2 separate regions of the Homo sapiens genome follow, and region 2 is linked to region 1. A link means that fine-mapping ties the variant in region 1 to the expression of a gene that starts in the linked region. Tissue or cell type: whole blood. Region 1 holds a variant in brackets; the other region holds the start of a gene. All regions are shown on one strand. Distances are from middle to middle.

The links. PIP is the estimated chance that this variant, and not a neighbour inherited with it, causes the effect.
Region 2: APBB1IP starts here. The variant in region 1 is fine-mapped to the expression of APBB1IP in whole blood (TOPMed, PIP 0.90).

What each region holds. Positions count from the first base shown.
Region 1 is chr10:26,537,115-26,545,221 of GRCh38, reverse strand. APBB1IP (amyloid beta precursor protein binding family B member 1 interacting protein) reads right to left here. Exons shown (of 15, transcript NM_019043.4): 11 at 3,530-3,640. Among named protein-coding and RNA genes, the nearest start is that of LINC03028, 38 kb to the left of the region's middle. RefSeq lists an enhancer at 4,402-4,471. The variant T/C (reference allele first, on the strand shown) is at 4,813.
Region 2 is chr10:26,433,680-26,441,786 of GRCh38, reverse strand. It overlaps APBB1IP (amyloid beta precursor protein binding family B member 1 interacting protein), which reads right to left and starts at 3,446. Exons shown (of 15, transcript NM_019043.4): 1 at 3,332-3,446; 2 at 2,934-3,135. RefSeq lists enhancers at 3,113-3,192, 3,753-3,882, 3,600-4,129.

The sequences.
Region 1 (8,107 bases):
ACAGCAGACAAAAAGGGAAATAAGTGACCACAATGTTCATAAACAAATTAGGTTCTCCAAACCTCAACAGTTATCCTTTTACTCAGCAAATTAATAAGAATTCTCAATATTTTGGGAGGGAACTGAGAAGCATGCTTAAGAACAAAATGAGCAGGGTGATTGCACATGAGGAAATTGGCTTTAGAACAGAACAGATCATCATCCTGAGAGAAAAGGAAATACACATTCTGCAAGGGTTGCTCATGACTCTTGCTCCCAGATCCATCAGTCCTGCTGGTTTCTCCACCTCTGAGCCCCCTCTCTCCTTTGGGGAGATCCTCAACTCTCTCTTGTAGACCTAGACCTTGGATAGCAGGAAGTTTTAGAAATTCTGGTTCAATACTCTGGGACTTAGGATTTCTATTCTTGGTGTAATCTCAGGATAACCTCATGTTCTAGGTCAGACCGTTCAAGTCCTGCCAATTGTAGGTCCTAGTCCCAAACTTATGTGTCAGTTTGAGAAACTGAGTCCCTCCCCTGTTCACTGTGTCTAAATCCCCATGCTGGGAACCTCTTGTCAGAGACCTTGTCTTTTTCTTGACAGACACCCCTGCTCTGGCTTCTGGACCCCAGCCCTGGGGTTTGGCTCCTGCTTCCTTCTGCTAGACTTTCATCCTGTCTGCCCACTCTGAAGGCCATTTAATCACCAGCTAAGCCATGAGTACTGATGGTTAGAGTGAGTTCTAACACTCAGTAGAAAACTTGACCATGCTTAGGAAAAATGAAGATTCCTAGGCTCCATCCTTAAACCCTAACCCTAACCCTAGGTTCCATCATTATTTTGATTTAGTGGGCCTAGGGCCTGGGAACCTGCATTTGTAAAGAGTCTCCAGTGACTGATTCAGCCAGTTTACTGACCAGTGTTTCAGAAAATTTCTCCAAAACCTTCTCCTGATTTAAGAAGTGTGGACAAGTCTTTGGCAATAAAGTGTGTTGGAATGCTCCATTTTGGTAATTTATCAGGGTCTTAGGATTCCAGACATGGGAAGATGTGACTCAAGGGCAGGTGGCATTGTGGGAGGGACAGGGTAGTGGGCGATGCTTTGTGTCCAGATCTCTGGGGGCCTGAGAAACTGTCTGAGAGAACGGCCTCTGAGCCGCACTGCCTGAGTTCTCATTCTGACTTGGCCACTTCCTGGCTGGGGAGTCTCTCTGCACACATACCACATCTACAAAGAAAATGCCATATAAGTGCTTGCCATTATTCTTATTTTTCCTATATCAGGAACAGACAAGGAGGGGCGAGGAGCAGAATCAGGCAGGGCATGCTCCCCATCTCTCTTCCTTCGGAACAAACAGACCTCCCTCACCTCAGGGCTTTCCAATTCCTGTTCTTATTCCTGGAGGGCTCGTACTGCAGATAATTCTTGCTCCCTCACCTCATTCACATCTTTTGTCAAATGTCACTTCCTAGAGAGCCTCTCTGTGAACACCCCATCCAAAGGAGCCCTGGCCCCAGCCCTACCTCATATTGCTCCTTGTTACTACTTGACATCACATTGCATATTTTTTTGTTCTTTGCCATTTTCCTCATGTTGAATGTAAACTCCATGAGGACAGGGATTGTTGTATTTTTTTAATTGCCGCATTCCCACCACTATTCCAGGTGATGGGAATGCGGCAGTGAAAATAATAATGATAATAATAATCCTTGTCACTCAACAATAGTTGTCATTCAACACATTTTTTTTCTTTTTCTTTTCTTTTTTTTTTTTTGAGACAGAGTCTCTCTCTGTCGCCCAGGCTGGAGTGCAGTGGTGCGATCTCGGCTCACTGCAACCTCCGCCTCCCGGGTTCAAGTGATTCTCCTGCCTCAAGCCCCCCAAGTAGCGGGACTAAAGGCGTGCACCACCACGCCCAGCTACTGTTTGTATTTTTAGCAGAGACAGGGTTTCACCATGTTGGCCAGTACGGTCTAGAGTCCTTGGCCTCAAGTGACCTGCCTGCCTCAGCCTCCCACAGTGTTGGGACTACAGGTGTGAGCCACCGTGCCCGGCCGTCATTCAACAAACATTAAATGACTGAATGAATGAGTGAGTGAACGGATCCAGCCTTCTCCCGGCCTTCAGTGCTTTCACAGTCATTATTCTGGGGCTCTTCTGTCTAGGGCAGGTTTCTTGACAGCAGCACTGTTGACATTGGGGGCCAGAGAAGTCTTTGGTGTGGGGGTTTTCTTGTGCACTGCAAGGTATTTAGCAGCATACCTGGCCTACTAGATGTCAGTAGTCCCTGCTCCATGCCCCAAGCTATGACAATCAAAAATGTTTTTAGGGTTCGCCAAATGACCCTTGGAGGCAAAATGCCTGGTTGAGAACCACTGGGGGAGTATCAGGCTGACTGAGCTAGTATAGTGGTTTTTATTATTAATATTATCTGTAAATAATTAAAAGTGGATGCTTAGGAATTAAAAAAAAAAGGCTAGGACATCTGAATGAAAGTCACTGAATATCCTGAGTCCTTGATAAAGCCAAGAATTTCAACCAATTATTATTTGATGATTATAATAAGTGATTGTAATTGTTCAGGGAGTCAAAATTACTAAATATGATTGAATTCACCTGGTTATTGCATTTGACTAAAAAGAAACGCAGACAAAAACTTACCATAGTCCTTAATCCAGAGTTCTGCAGGCATACAGAAAGACCCGTAACGCATCACATGTGTGGTTGTAATAACCCATCTCCTGATCAGACTGATCTGAGATTCTAATTTTAAAAAATGTAAATCGGCCAGGAGTGGTGGCTGATGCCTGCAACCCCAGCACTTTGGGATGCCAAGGTAGGTGGATTGCCTGAGCCCAGGAGTTTGAGACCAGCCTGGGTAATATGGTAAAGCCCTATCTTAACTAAAAATACAAAAATTAGCTGGTGTGGTGGTGCACACCTCTAGTCCCAGATACTTGAGAGGCTAAGGCAGGAGGATTGCTTGAGCCTGGGGGGCTGAGGCTGCAGTGGGCTATGATTGAGCCACTGCACTCCACCCTGGGTGACAGAGTGAGACTCGGTCTCAAAAAAATGTAAACCATATCTAACATTTGATAATACCTATTGCCTTTTGACAATATACACCTGAAGTTTCATGACCCAGTAATTAAAACAACTTTTTTTTGGCTATTTTCTATAAGTTGTCTAGGAAATCTTGCAAGTTTCTAATTTCTAAAATCTTCTTATGGTGGAATGAGCCCAATAAGAACTGAAAACTTTTTTTAGTCTTATCGATAACATTATAAATTAATTTGTTTAAAATGTGGAACTTTCATTTTCAGAAGTGAAGAAATCCCCAGACAGAGTTACCTTAAAGTTTTAGGTTCAGATAGGAGGCTTTGGGGAAAATGTCCCAAATTGATAGAAATGTTTCCCTCATTCCTATTTTGGTTAAACAATTTCTTATTGTTACACATATGGCTAACTATAATTTAACATTTTCTTCCTTGAAAAAAAATTAACTCAAATTGCTTATAAATCTAAATGAATGACTTCTTATAACATACCTTTAAAACAAAGCAATAGTCAGTGGGCGCTTTATATTTCATTTTATGCTGAGTCCCATAGTAAATGTTGACATTTTCAAACTGTATAAAACACGCCAGATCTCGAGATGTCTGAAAGACAGGGAAAAAAATAAAACTTCAACTGAGATGACAGTTAACAATTTTCCAGAGTTGTCCTTCATAGCACAACTAAGGATTATATTTTAGTAAAGAAAATATTGACTTTTAGGTAATTTATATAAACATCTGCCATGTATAGGTTTTCTCAAAGGCAAGTCTGAAAGGTTGGAATGGAAACTGATATGGCCAAGTTGGGGGACAATTTAGTAAGATCTATACATAAATCTTTCCCAATATGAAAGATATTGAATGTTCCCAACACAAAGAAATGATAAATGTTTGAGATGATGGATGTGCTAATTACCTTGATCTGATCACCATACATTATATGTATCAAAACATCACTATGTACGTTATGCATATGTACAATTATTATTTGTCAATCAAAAAATAAAATTAATTTTTTAAAAAGAGTGCAGCCATGAAAATCGGTGCCACTGACCCAGAAACGGAGTGAAAGATTATACTGCTGTTCTAATGCCTGTCTGGGGACTCCCAGAGTCAGGATGGACTGTCCTTGAGATGTCATTATTGATGCAGTCGAGACAAGGTGACCGCTTAGCCAGAAATTTCATTTTGACTTTTGCCATTCTAAGTCCGTGATGGATTTTGCGATTGAGCATTAAAAAAAAAAAAAAGTCCCCCTCAGGACGAAAAATGAGAGATAAACTTATGCTCAGTAAATCAGCACACACTTCATGCACTTCCTCCTGAGAAAAAGGATTTCTTTCACAAGTTCTCTTTACTGCAGGCAGTGTTGCCATGGAAACAGAGACCTCTCCTCCACGGATAACAGGCACTGTGAAGACTGCAGCCTGTAATCTACATATTTGGTTACACTTCAATTACAAATGTGTTCCATTAGTTTTTTGTTTCGCTTTCTATATTTCTTTACTAGTTAGTGAATAAAGAATAGATGGCAGAACTATTTACACCTTAGTGCACAATTATTTCTTTACATATGCTTGTATTCTTTTCTTACAAGATATTTTCTTCTGGATGTTCAAAGTTTACATTTTTAAGTTACAAACGAATGCATATTAGTCACATTTAAAATATATATATATATAAATAATAAAATGCACATCTTCCTCCACCACCCCTTTTTCTTATTTTGTTCTTTTCTCCAAAGGTACCATAGTTAATAGTTTGGTAGTATTCTA[T/C]TCTGTTCTATCCCATGACGTTGCCCAGGCTGGTCTTGAATTCCTGAGCTCAAGCGATCCGCCTTCCTTGGCCTTCCAAACTGTTGGGATTAGAGGAGTGAGCCACCGCCCCTCGCCTTCTTTTTCTTAACATTGCATCTAGGAGTCTTTCTACATCAAGACATGAATTAATATATGACATTCATTTTATGGCTGCAGAGAATTCTACGGTACAGGTGTAACGATTTATTTAACTATTCTACTACAGATGATTAGAAGTTATTTCAATATTTAGCTATTACAAAAAATACTGTGCATGTGAGCTTATATTTTTGTGAGATAGATTCGTCAAGCATGGAGTTGCCATTTGAAAGGATTTTTACTCCCTGTTACATGTACATAGATTTTGCTAAATTGTCCCCCAGTTTGGCCGTATGAGTTTCTATTCCAAGCTCCCAGGCGTGAGTGTCTCTTTTTCTTACCCACTTCCACCAAAATTTGGATATTATCTATATTGTTTATTTTATCAATCTCATGCTTAATTTTCATTTCCCTGATCAGTAATGAGACGGAGCAACTTTTAGTTATGCGGTGGTTACCGGTACTTCTTTTTCTGTAAATTTTCCCTTTAAAAGCTTTGCCATTTTTCTGTATGTTTATCTTTTTCTTATTGATTTCTTGAAGTCTTTATATTTTATGGATATTCATACTTGTTTATACATGTTGCAAATGTACTCTCTCACTGTAGTCAGTCTTTCACTTCTTGTTTGTTATCTTTGGCCATAAGGTATTAAAAATAACTTTATCAGGTCAAATCTGGCCATTTTTCTCCGTTATAATTTTGAGTTTTTATTCTTGCTTAGGAAACCTTTCTCCAGCTCAAAATTATAAAAACATTAACCTATATTTTCTTTTTTTTCTCCCTTTCTTCCTTCCTTCCTTCCCTCCCTTCCTCCCTTTCTTCCTTTCTTCCTTTCTTCCTTCCTTCACTCTCTCTCTTTCTTTCCTTCTTTTTTTTTTTTTCAGGATCTCATATTGTCACTTCAGCTGGAGTGCAGTGGCACGAACATGGCTCACTGAAGTCTTGACCTCCCGGGCTCAAATGATCCTCCCGGATCAGCCTCCCAAGTAGCTGGGACTACAGGCATGTGCCACCATCCCCACTAATTTTTTTATTCCTTTTGTACAGACAGGGTCTCCCTATGTTTCTCAGGCTGGTCTTGAACTCTTGGGCTCAAGCTATCCTCCCACCTGGTCCTCCCAGAGTTCTGGAATTAGAGGCATGAGCCACCGCACCCAGCCAGCCTCTGTTTTCTTCTAGGATTTTATACTATTTTTCTCTAAAGATATTTTAATCAATCAAGAATTTAGTTTGGTACATGGAATGAGGTAGGAAATTATATTTCTAAATGGATATACAGTTATTTCAGTTCTATTTGTTGAATACCACATTCTTTCCCCACTGCTGTGATATAAATTCCAACTTTAACTTCTCTGATATTAGACGGTTGTCTGTCGACCTGTTTGTCTCTAGCTGTGCTGTTTTTATCTAATGTTTTGGCACAGCAGGAGATCTACCTTGATGTTCTTCACAATTTTGGGAAGGTCTATTTTGGAACAGTGTCTTTTTTCCATGAAATCAGTCTGTGAATTTCAAGTAAATAAAATCCTACTGATATTTTTATTAAAATTATATTAAATTTATAGAAAACTGGGAAGAATTAATAACTTTTCTTTTAGCAACATGGTACCTTTCTTTTCTTTATCTTCTACTTTTTTTTTTTTTTTTGAGATGGAATCTCACTTTGTCGCCCCAGGCTGGAGTGCAGTGGCATGATCTTGGCTCACTGCAACCTCCGCCTCCTGGGTTCAAGCAATTCTTCTGCCTCAGCCTCCCGAGTAGCTGGGATTACAGGCGCCCGCCACCACGCCTGGCTAATTTTTGCATTTTTAGTAGAGATGGGGTTTCACCATGTTGGACAGGCTGGTCTCAAACTCCTGACCTCGTGATTCGCCCGCCTCGGCCTCCCAAAGTGCTGGGATTACAGGCATGAGCCACCGCACCTGGCCTGCAACATGGTACCTTTCTATTGATTCAGTTCTACTTCATTTCTTTTAATACATTTTATATTTTATGCCATATGAATCTGGAACATTTCTTGCTGAGTTTATTGTTAGGTATTTTGCATTTTCTGTTTCTAGTCTGCATGGATTCTTTTGCATTATGGTTTGCATTATATATATTGTTTGTGTAAAGAAAAACTTTCTTAGTTAATACATTTATTTGGTTCTAACAGTTTTTCAGTTGAGTGTCTCATATTGCTGGATAGACAACACTGTGAAAAATCAGTCTTTGCCTCTTCTTTTCTATTGGTTATACTTATTATTCTTTTCTTTAATATACTAGTTAGTTCCTCAACCCCGTGTTAATGGTAACAGTGAGAGAAGGTATTCTTGTCCAACTCTACTGTAAACACTTTTTTTTTTTTTTTTTTTTGAGACCTAGTCTTGCTCTTTCACCCAGGCTGGAGTGCAGCGGCATGATCTCAGGCCACTGCAACCTCCACCTCCCAAGTTCAAGTGATTCCCGTGCCTCACCCTCCCCAGCTACTGGGATTACAAGTGTGCACCACCACACCCAGCTAATTTTTGTATTTTTAGTAGAGGTAGCGTTTCACCATGTTGGCCAGGCTGGTCTAGAACTCCTGGTCTCAAGTGATTCACCTTGCCTCAGCCTCCCAAAGTGCTGGGATTACAGGCATGAACCACCACACCCAGCCAAATGTAAACACTTTTAATTCTCATCACAGAGTATATTGTTTGTTATATGTTTATTTATATGCACCGTTTATATTCAAATGCCTAAGACATAAACATTTCGAAAACAAATTATTTGTGGGTCAGTTGTGAGGTGCCCAGTGTGGGACTGGAATGAGATGGCAGAGATGGGAAAGCATCAGATCTAAGGGCAGGAAAAGAGTGGAAGAGGCTAAGGAGAACAGTAGCTGTCCTGGACCAAGAGTTAGCCATAATGCCCCTCCTGTCTTCCGATAGAGACAAGAGTCTCCTTACTGGAGGTAGCAGACCTGGATGTTCACCATAATTTCATCGGCTTGGAAGTGTGGGTTAAGCTTTATCAGAGGTAAATTCATGCATTGCAATGCATGAATATACCATTGGTGGTGCCCTGCATTTGGAAGGGAAGGCAAAATGCTTCCGCGTACCCAAGATACAGATTAGACATGTATTAATGGTGAACAAAAGACGGAAAGGTCCTAACCCTCTAAGAAAGGTCTTAGAGAGAGCTGATGGTCAG
Region 2 (8,107 bases), 100 kb after region 1:
ATTCAAGTTCATGGTCAACGCTCAGGAAATGTTTTAAAACTGAGTCACGGAATCAAGCTCCAGAATATGTGGAATAATGAGAACGTGTGATGCCTTGGAGTGGTGTCACCTCTCTGCTTGCTCATGCCTGAGGTTTGGGACCAGTGGAGCCAACGGGATCTCAGGGGCTTGTGATATTTCCATGGTACCACTCAGTGAGATTAATATATTCTGCACATTTAGCCAGCCTCTTTGGAGTCCTCATTTTGGGATCACAAATTGGCTAGGAAATGATGATGCAGTGGTGGCAGGTCACATCCTCTAGTCCCCCAAAAGCTGTCCTCAGGGTCTGCCCTTCCAAGCTGCAGGTACAATCTAGTCTCTTTAACTGGGTATAGGTGTAATGGCATTCCTTCATGCGGCTAGTTCTCTCTTTTCAAGAGAAATCTAATGATTACTGTTCCAGATATCTAGCAGTTTTCTCTAAAAGTCATGTTTCTCACGATAATTAAAAGTGTAATATGTATTTTAAAATCCCCATGCAACCAGTGTAGAAATCTTACACTTTAAAATCTGGCATTTATTATGTACATGAATTTATAATAAATGCTTAAGCTTTAAGTGACTTGCCTCTTAGATGACAGCAGTGACATAAAACACACACATTCATTTTCATACTGAGAAGATACCTGTTGTGTTAATAAAAATTGTTCTGTTTTGAGGCAAGCATTCCTAAGATCACCGTAGTCTCCATAATATAAACTCATGGGGTCCTATAAAATTGTAAAGATTGTGGTCCAATAGGCTATGGAACGCAGACAATTTATTATAAGATTTGTGGACTCACTAAAATGTTTTAGGCATAAAAATAATTAAAATAAAATTGAAGAGAATTAGAAGAAAATGAAAATAATAATGCTCTTTGGAAGTAAGATGGCTTAAAGAAAATTCAAAGTGACATATCAAACAGACATTTATGGCAATGAACTTTATAAGTAGCTCATTCTAATAATAATATGGAACTATTTAAAACTTTGATTGATGAGTGAAAAAAGGCAAATCAATAGTGGATAACTGGTGAACATTCTTAGGATATAAAAATACAAAAAATGTAATAAATACTATAAAACCTAGTATTGTGTTTAAGATTTAAAGTAATGCCATAAAGTAATTCATATTACAAAGTTATATTTCTTGAGAAATAGCAATTTAAAGATTTCAAAATATAATATTGACCTGTTCAAGTTTGGGCTGTTTCTTATCTCAGTTTTCAAATAAGATGGAAATTTGCCTTTTTACATATAGGCCAGATATTGACTGCGCTTTTACAGGAACTTCTCAGAAACAAAAGACCTCAAAGATATTGATATTTCAGAATGTAATCTGTTATGGTTATGATTATTTTCTCCATTTTTAAAAAATTTGTGATCAGCAATTCTAATGTTGATATAATGTTGCCAGTATTCCAGTTGGGACCAATTCAAAGAATTATAGCAACTCCTCAATTGCTATTTTAAGAACAGACATAATGTAGCCCAATCATCTCACTTTACTGACGTTATCTGAAGTCCAGGGAGAAGTTATGCAAGTTAATCAATATCATCCTTATCTAGATGGGGGAGATATAAGAGCCAGAACCCAGGTCTCCCAAGTGCTGAGAAAAAACCCAAATATTAGTAATTATTAATAGTTTAAGGATTAATAGTTTAAGGACACACATTATTAATAGTTTAAGGATGAAGTTAAATTTCTTAGACCTTTCACAACACACGTTGAGCAGACAGGAAATACCACTAGAAGACTTTATAAAGTATTTCTCAGCAGATCCTTGCTAATTTCGCCAGCCAGCATCATCGTCCTGGCCCATGTGCCACCCATTATTCCAGTGAGGCCAGAGGGAAAATCGCTGCTCTAGGTTTATGAAAAAGGACAAAGTTTTCCTTTCTGAAATTTCTCTCTGGAGACCCAGATTTTAAAATGAATAGTAGCTAGTACCGGCACCTTTGTTTAAACCACGTTATGCCACCAGAAAAAAACATCTGGGGGCATAATAAACTCACGGGCCCTTTTCTTTTGTTACTTTCCTCTAGTACTCCGTCTCGTCAAGGATCACATTAAAAGTTCTTTTGAACCGCTATGCCCTGAGTGTCTAGGAAACACATTTCACGTTCCACAGGGGTATGAACTAAGAAATACCTTAGCAGGAAAGTAAGAGGTACACCGGGCTAGGTCTTTGGTGGAACACCTGCGCAGAGGTTCTTGGAGACATTAGGACACCCTAGTTAGTTTCCTCCATTCTGTAAAAGGCCCTCTGGATATTCATTTCAAGCCAAATTATGAAACTTGTGCCTGGTGTCCAAATCTATCTTTATGGTATTTTAAAATGAAAATGAGAATATTCGGGGGAAAAAGTTATTTTTAAAAAGAGGAAAGAGTTGTCCAAAAGTTTTAGAGGAAGGAAACACTCTAAGATGCATCAGACTGCGAGCCACACTCAAATTCTCACACGGCTGGCATTTAATCCACATCTAATCTTGGCCCCTCAAGAATCCCTCCAGGTTCCGGGAGACTGGGGCTCCCGGACCTGCTGACCTGCTGACCTGCTGACCTGCTGGACGTGCAAGGGTTCATAGCAGTTCCCCGTTTGACCTTGCAGCAATTTCCTGGGCAGGAAATCTGTCAAATCTGTTGCAATAGCTCGGGAAAAAGCAAACCCGAACCCCAAACCCTCACACCCCCACCCTCGCGAGCCGGGTCCAGAGTGGAGATCAGCGGAGGGGACCCTGGGGACCCGCTGCGCTCGAGGGCCACGCCTGGGGGCACGCGTTCACGAGGCCAGATCCTGGAGCTGCCCCCGGCGTCGGACCCGACGGGCTTGACAAACGGGTTCCTGACAGCCCCGAGGGGCCCGTGCTGGCGCTCCCAGGGCTCCCGGGACTGGGAGCGCCACTTACCTCGACTGCTCTGCGGGGCGCTGCGGGGCGCGGGAAGGCGGCGAGACTCCGGCCGGGAAAGCGACGCGCGGTGCAGACTGCCGCACCCGGGCTCCAGGTCGCTGCCCCGGGGAGGAAGTGCTGTCAGCCCTGCCCTTCCCACGCAGCGCGCAGACGTGTGGCGCTATCCGAGCTGCTTTGCTCCGAGGTGCAAGGAAGGCCCCTGGTTAGAGACAGTGGGACAGACAAACATATGCGTAAAGGACTCCGAGTTAGGGGCTGCTTTCTCCAACTCATCGAGTCTGCGCCTGATTTTCTCTCCCCCATCCCACCCCTACTACACAACCACCTTGAAGGGATTTTTATTTTATTTTATTTTATTTTATTTTAATTCTGGGAAACGTTGCGCCTCCCCCTACCTGTGCCGCGCGCGCCCTTCTCTCAGGAGCGTCTCCTGGCGAATGGAACCATTTTGCAGCCTCGACGCAAGAGGGACTAAGGGATTGGGGCCTAGTGATGGTTCCACCAAAGACTGAGAGGCCGCTTTATGTTGCAACGGTCTCCCAAAGTGTTTACTTCAGCACTTTCTGGGCTTCCTCTTTTGGGCCGGTTGTGCAAGGCTTCCCGGCCGCCTGCAGCCCGCCCTCAGGGGACGCGGTGCAGGGCTGGACTGGCAACACGCGCGTCCCGGCCGGAGTTCAGCTGTCTCTCGGGTGGGGGTGGAGGAAGGGCGCGCTGGGCGGAGGCCCTTTCTCAACCATCAGGTTGGTAACCTCACCCTCCTCCCTCCCCACGTTTAACCACGCTCAGTTGGCCGGCCAGGGTGTAGAGGAATAGCACTGTCTTCATTGCTCGTAGAAATCCAAAATGGTCTGAACCCCGTGGAAGAGAATTGAGCAATATCTATTTAACTTATGTATGGATTCGCCTTTTGACCCCGTCATCCCACTTCCAGGAGTGTGTTACGAAGATCTGCTGATGAAAATAAGTAATGCACACGGCAGAGGGCATTCATGGACTCACTATTTGCAACAGCATAGGACTGGCTGGAAATAGCACCTGTCAGTTGGGAGTGGAGTTTCCTGAGAGAAAGTCGCTGGGGAGGTCTGAAAATACAGAAGTTAAAATCAGTTATGATTTGTAAATGCGGTTGAATAACCCTCCCCTTCTCCTCTACAGCTGTGTCTTCAAAGGCTTATATGTCAGGGAAGGTGGTGAAGACATAAAGACAGAAATTAGGTGCATGTGTTAATTAGGCAATTTCAAATAGTTCTGTCATTTATTTAATGAGAAACTATTCGTAAGCACCAACACTTCTAAGAACAATGAAAATAGTTAGAGGAAACAATTTCTGCTCTCATGCATGGTGCATTCTAGTTGGTAGAAAGCAGACAATAAACAAATTAATATTTAACATGTCAAGGAATGTAACTAGTTTTGAAGGAAGTTAAAAGGTGAGGGATAGAGAGTGATGGGCATGGGGATGGGGTTGCTGTATTAATTAGGGTAAATAAACGATAAATAAATAGAAAATATATTTTCTCCTCATGATTTTCTTAATAACAGTTTCTTTTCTCTAGCTTTCTTTATTGTAAAAATACAGTATTTATCTAAATACATATAACATAATATGTGTTAATTGACTGTTTAATATTATCAGTAAGGCTTCTGGTCAACAGTAGGCTATTCGTGGTTAAGTTTTGGGGGAGTCAAAAGACATACATGGATTTTCAATTGTGCAGCAGTTTGGTACTCCTGAAATCTGGCATTGTTCTGTTACAGTAGGTAGCTAGTCAGGCATGAGCAGGGCAGGAGAGGGCTCCTCCCACCCCCTACCAGGAATGTCAGGTGACCATCAGGTGATGATCAAGCAGTTGTTATCAGCCTTACTGATAACATAGTCGATTAACTCATATTATTTTATATATATTAAATACTGTATTTTTATAATAAAGTAAGCCAGAGAAAAGAAACTGTTATTAATAAAATCATAAGGAAGAGAAAATGTATTTTTCATTTATTTATTTATTATTTATTTATCCTAATTTTTTTTAATATAGCACCAGGGAAAGGCAGTCTCCCAATAGACAGAAACACCTGAAACTGGTATTTCTGTCTGATAAGTGACACTTGAGCTAGATCTAAATGGCATGAGAGATTAATCCACACTGGGTTTTTAGATGGGAATATTCCAGGCAAAAGGAACAGCACATTCAAAGACCCTGAGTTAGGAGAGCACTTAAGATATTGGAAAAACACCAAGGAAATTAGTACGGCTGAGCAGAGTGAGATGGGAGGGACAGACATGAGATGGGATCAAAAGGAAATGGTGCCCAGATTGTGTGCTATTTGGGAGCTGTGGAAGAGAATTTGATGTGAGTGAGATGGAAAGCCAGTGGAAGGTTCTGAGCAGAGTTGTAAGTGCTACATAAAATATAAAATCAAACAATGAGAGTGACTTTCTTGGGGCAGGGAAAGTGGTCAAGGATCACCTCTTTACAAAGTAATGAGAAGGGGCAGCCATTCAGAAACTTGGGAAAGGATTCCAAGAGAAGGAAGAACAAGAAGAGGGGCTGAGATAGGAACATAGAAAGTTCAAAAGAAGGCAGGCCAGTGTGCCTGGAATGTTCTGAAAGAGTAGGGCAGCAATAGTGGATGGGGACAGAGAGGTAAGCAGGAACCAGAACAAGCAGGACCTTGTAGCCAGCATTGAGGACTTTAGGTTTTATTCTAATTGCAATGGGGGACTATTGGAATGTATTTAGCAACTGAGTGCATGATTTGACTTAAGCGATAAGCCATCCTGCCAGTTGGTGATTGTTCAGAAAATCAATTGATTGAAGCAAGAGAAGAGAGATTCCTCAGTAGACTATGGTCAGAGTCCAGATGAAAAATGATAGTAGCTTTATTAGTATTCTAACAGTAGATATGGTGAGAAGAGTTTGGAATCAAGATACAGTTTTCAAAATAAAACCAAAGCTTGGCACAGTTGCTCATGCCTGTAATATCAGTGCTTTAGGAGGCCAAGGTGGTAGGATCACTTGAGGCCATGAGTTCAAAACTAGCCTGGACAACATAGCAAGACCCTATCTCTACAAAAATGGGGGAAAAAATTAGCTGGGTATGGTGGCTTATGCCTATGGTTCCAGTTGCTTGGGAGACTGAGGCAGGAGGATTGCTTGAGCCCAGGAGTTCAAATCTGCAGTGAGCTATGATGATGCCACTGTACTCCAGCCTGGGCAACAGAGCAAGACTATTTAAACAAACAAACAAACAACCACCTAGCAAAGTAGAACCAATAGCATTTGCTGATGGGTGGGCTGGGAAATGGGATGGGAGTAAGGGAGTGGCAGAGGGATTAGAAACTGAATGGAAACCAGTATGATTGGAGTTATGGAAGGTCTGGTTAGAGGTAAGGTCAGTAGGGGCAAACCATGTAGGGTCATGTGGACTATGTCAAGAATTATTTTCTCATCCTAAGAGCAATGAGAATATATTAAATAATATTTTAAGCTGGCAAATGATGGGATTTATGCTTTAGGAAAATCACTCTGGCATAATTTGGGGAACGGATCAGATGAAGAAAAGAATAGATGCAGGAAGACTTCTGAGCTAAGTTGGGAAAGAAAATACAATTGGCCTTTGAACTGCCAGCAGCAGAATATATCTGAGACACGGCACCAAAATATGTTAGCTTTGGCAAAACCATATGGGTCTGTAGCGACCTAAATTCTTGCCTCCTCAGAAGAAAGAATTCAACTGAGGGGCATAAGGCAGAAGAAGAGACTAAGGCAAGCTTTAGAGCAGGAGCGAAAGTTTATTAGAAAACTGTAGGGCAGTAACAAAAGAAAGTAAATTATACTTGGAAGAGGGCCAAGCGGGTGACTTGAGAGAAGTGCGCTGTTTGACTTTTGACTTGGGGCTTTACGCATTGACATACTTCGGGGTCTTGTCTTCCTCCTCCTGATTCTTCCCATGGAGTGGGCTGTCCACATGAGCAGTGGCGTGCCAGCACTTGGGAGGTGAGCATGCGCAGTGTGTTTACTGAAGTTGTACGCGTGTTCACTTTAGGCATTCTTCCCTTACCAAATGTCCCTGGAAGGTCATTTGCCAGTTAAACTCCACCATTTTACCTCTTAGTGCACATGCTTGAGCCCACTCGCCCAACTCCTGAGATCTTATCTGGAAGCTGTTGATCACCAGTTTCAGGTGTTTCTATCTATTGGGAGACTGCCTTTCCCTGGTGCTGGCTGTGATCAATTATTATTTTAGAGACACGGTTAACAGTCCCCTGACCACCACCTGATAGTCGCCTGACATTCCTGGTAGGGGGTGAGGGGAGCCCTCTCCTGCCCTGCTCATGCCTGACTAGCTACCTACTGTAACAGAACAATGCCAGGTTTTAGGGGTACCAAAATGCTGCACAGTTGAAAATCCATGTATAACTTTTGACTCCCACAAAACTTGACTACTAATTGTCTACTGTTGCCCAGAAGACTTACTGATAACACAGTCGATTAACACATATTATGTTATATGTATTAAATACTGTATTTTTACAATAAAGTAAGCTAGAGAAACTGTTATTAACAAAATCATAAAAGAAAATATATTTTCTATGTATTTATTTTTTATTTATTTTCAGAGTCTCACTCTGTTCCTGGACTAGAGTGCAGTGGTGAGATCATAGCTCCTTGTAACCTCAAACTCCAGGGCTCAAGGGATCCTGCTGCTTCAGCCTCCTGAGCAGCTGGGACTATAGGCATGCACCATCATGTCCAGCTAATTTTATTTTAAATAATTTTTTGTAAGATGGGGTCTTGCTATGTTTCCCAGGCTTGTCTAAAATTCCTGGCCTCAAGCGATCTTCCTGCCCCAGCCTCCCAAAGTGCTGGGATTACAGGCATGAACCACTGTGACTGACCTCATATTTACTATTTATTAAGTGGAAGTGGATCATCATAAAGGTCTTCATCCTCATCTTCACGTTACTCAACTTGAGTAGGAGGAGGAAGAGGAGGGGTTGATCTTGCTGTCTCAGGGGCGGCAGAAGCAGCAGGAAAATCCAAGTATAAATGCACCCATGCAGTTCAAACCCATGTTGTTCAAGGGTCAACTGTATAATTGTTTTGACTAGGTCAGCAGCAGCGGAAATGCGAAGAAATGGGTGAAACTGAGAGACATTTAGAAGGTAG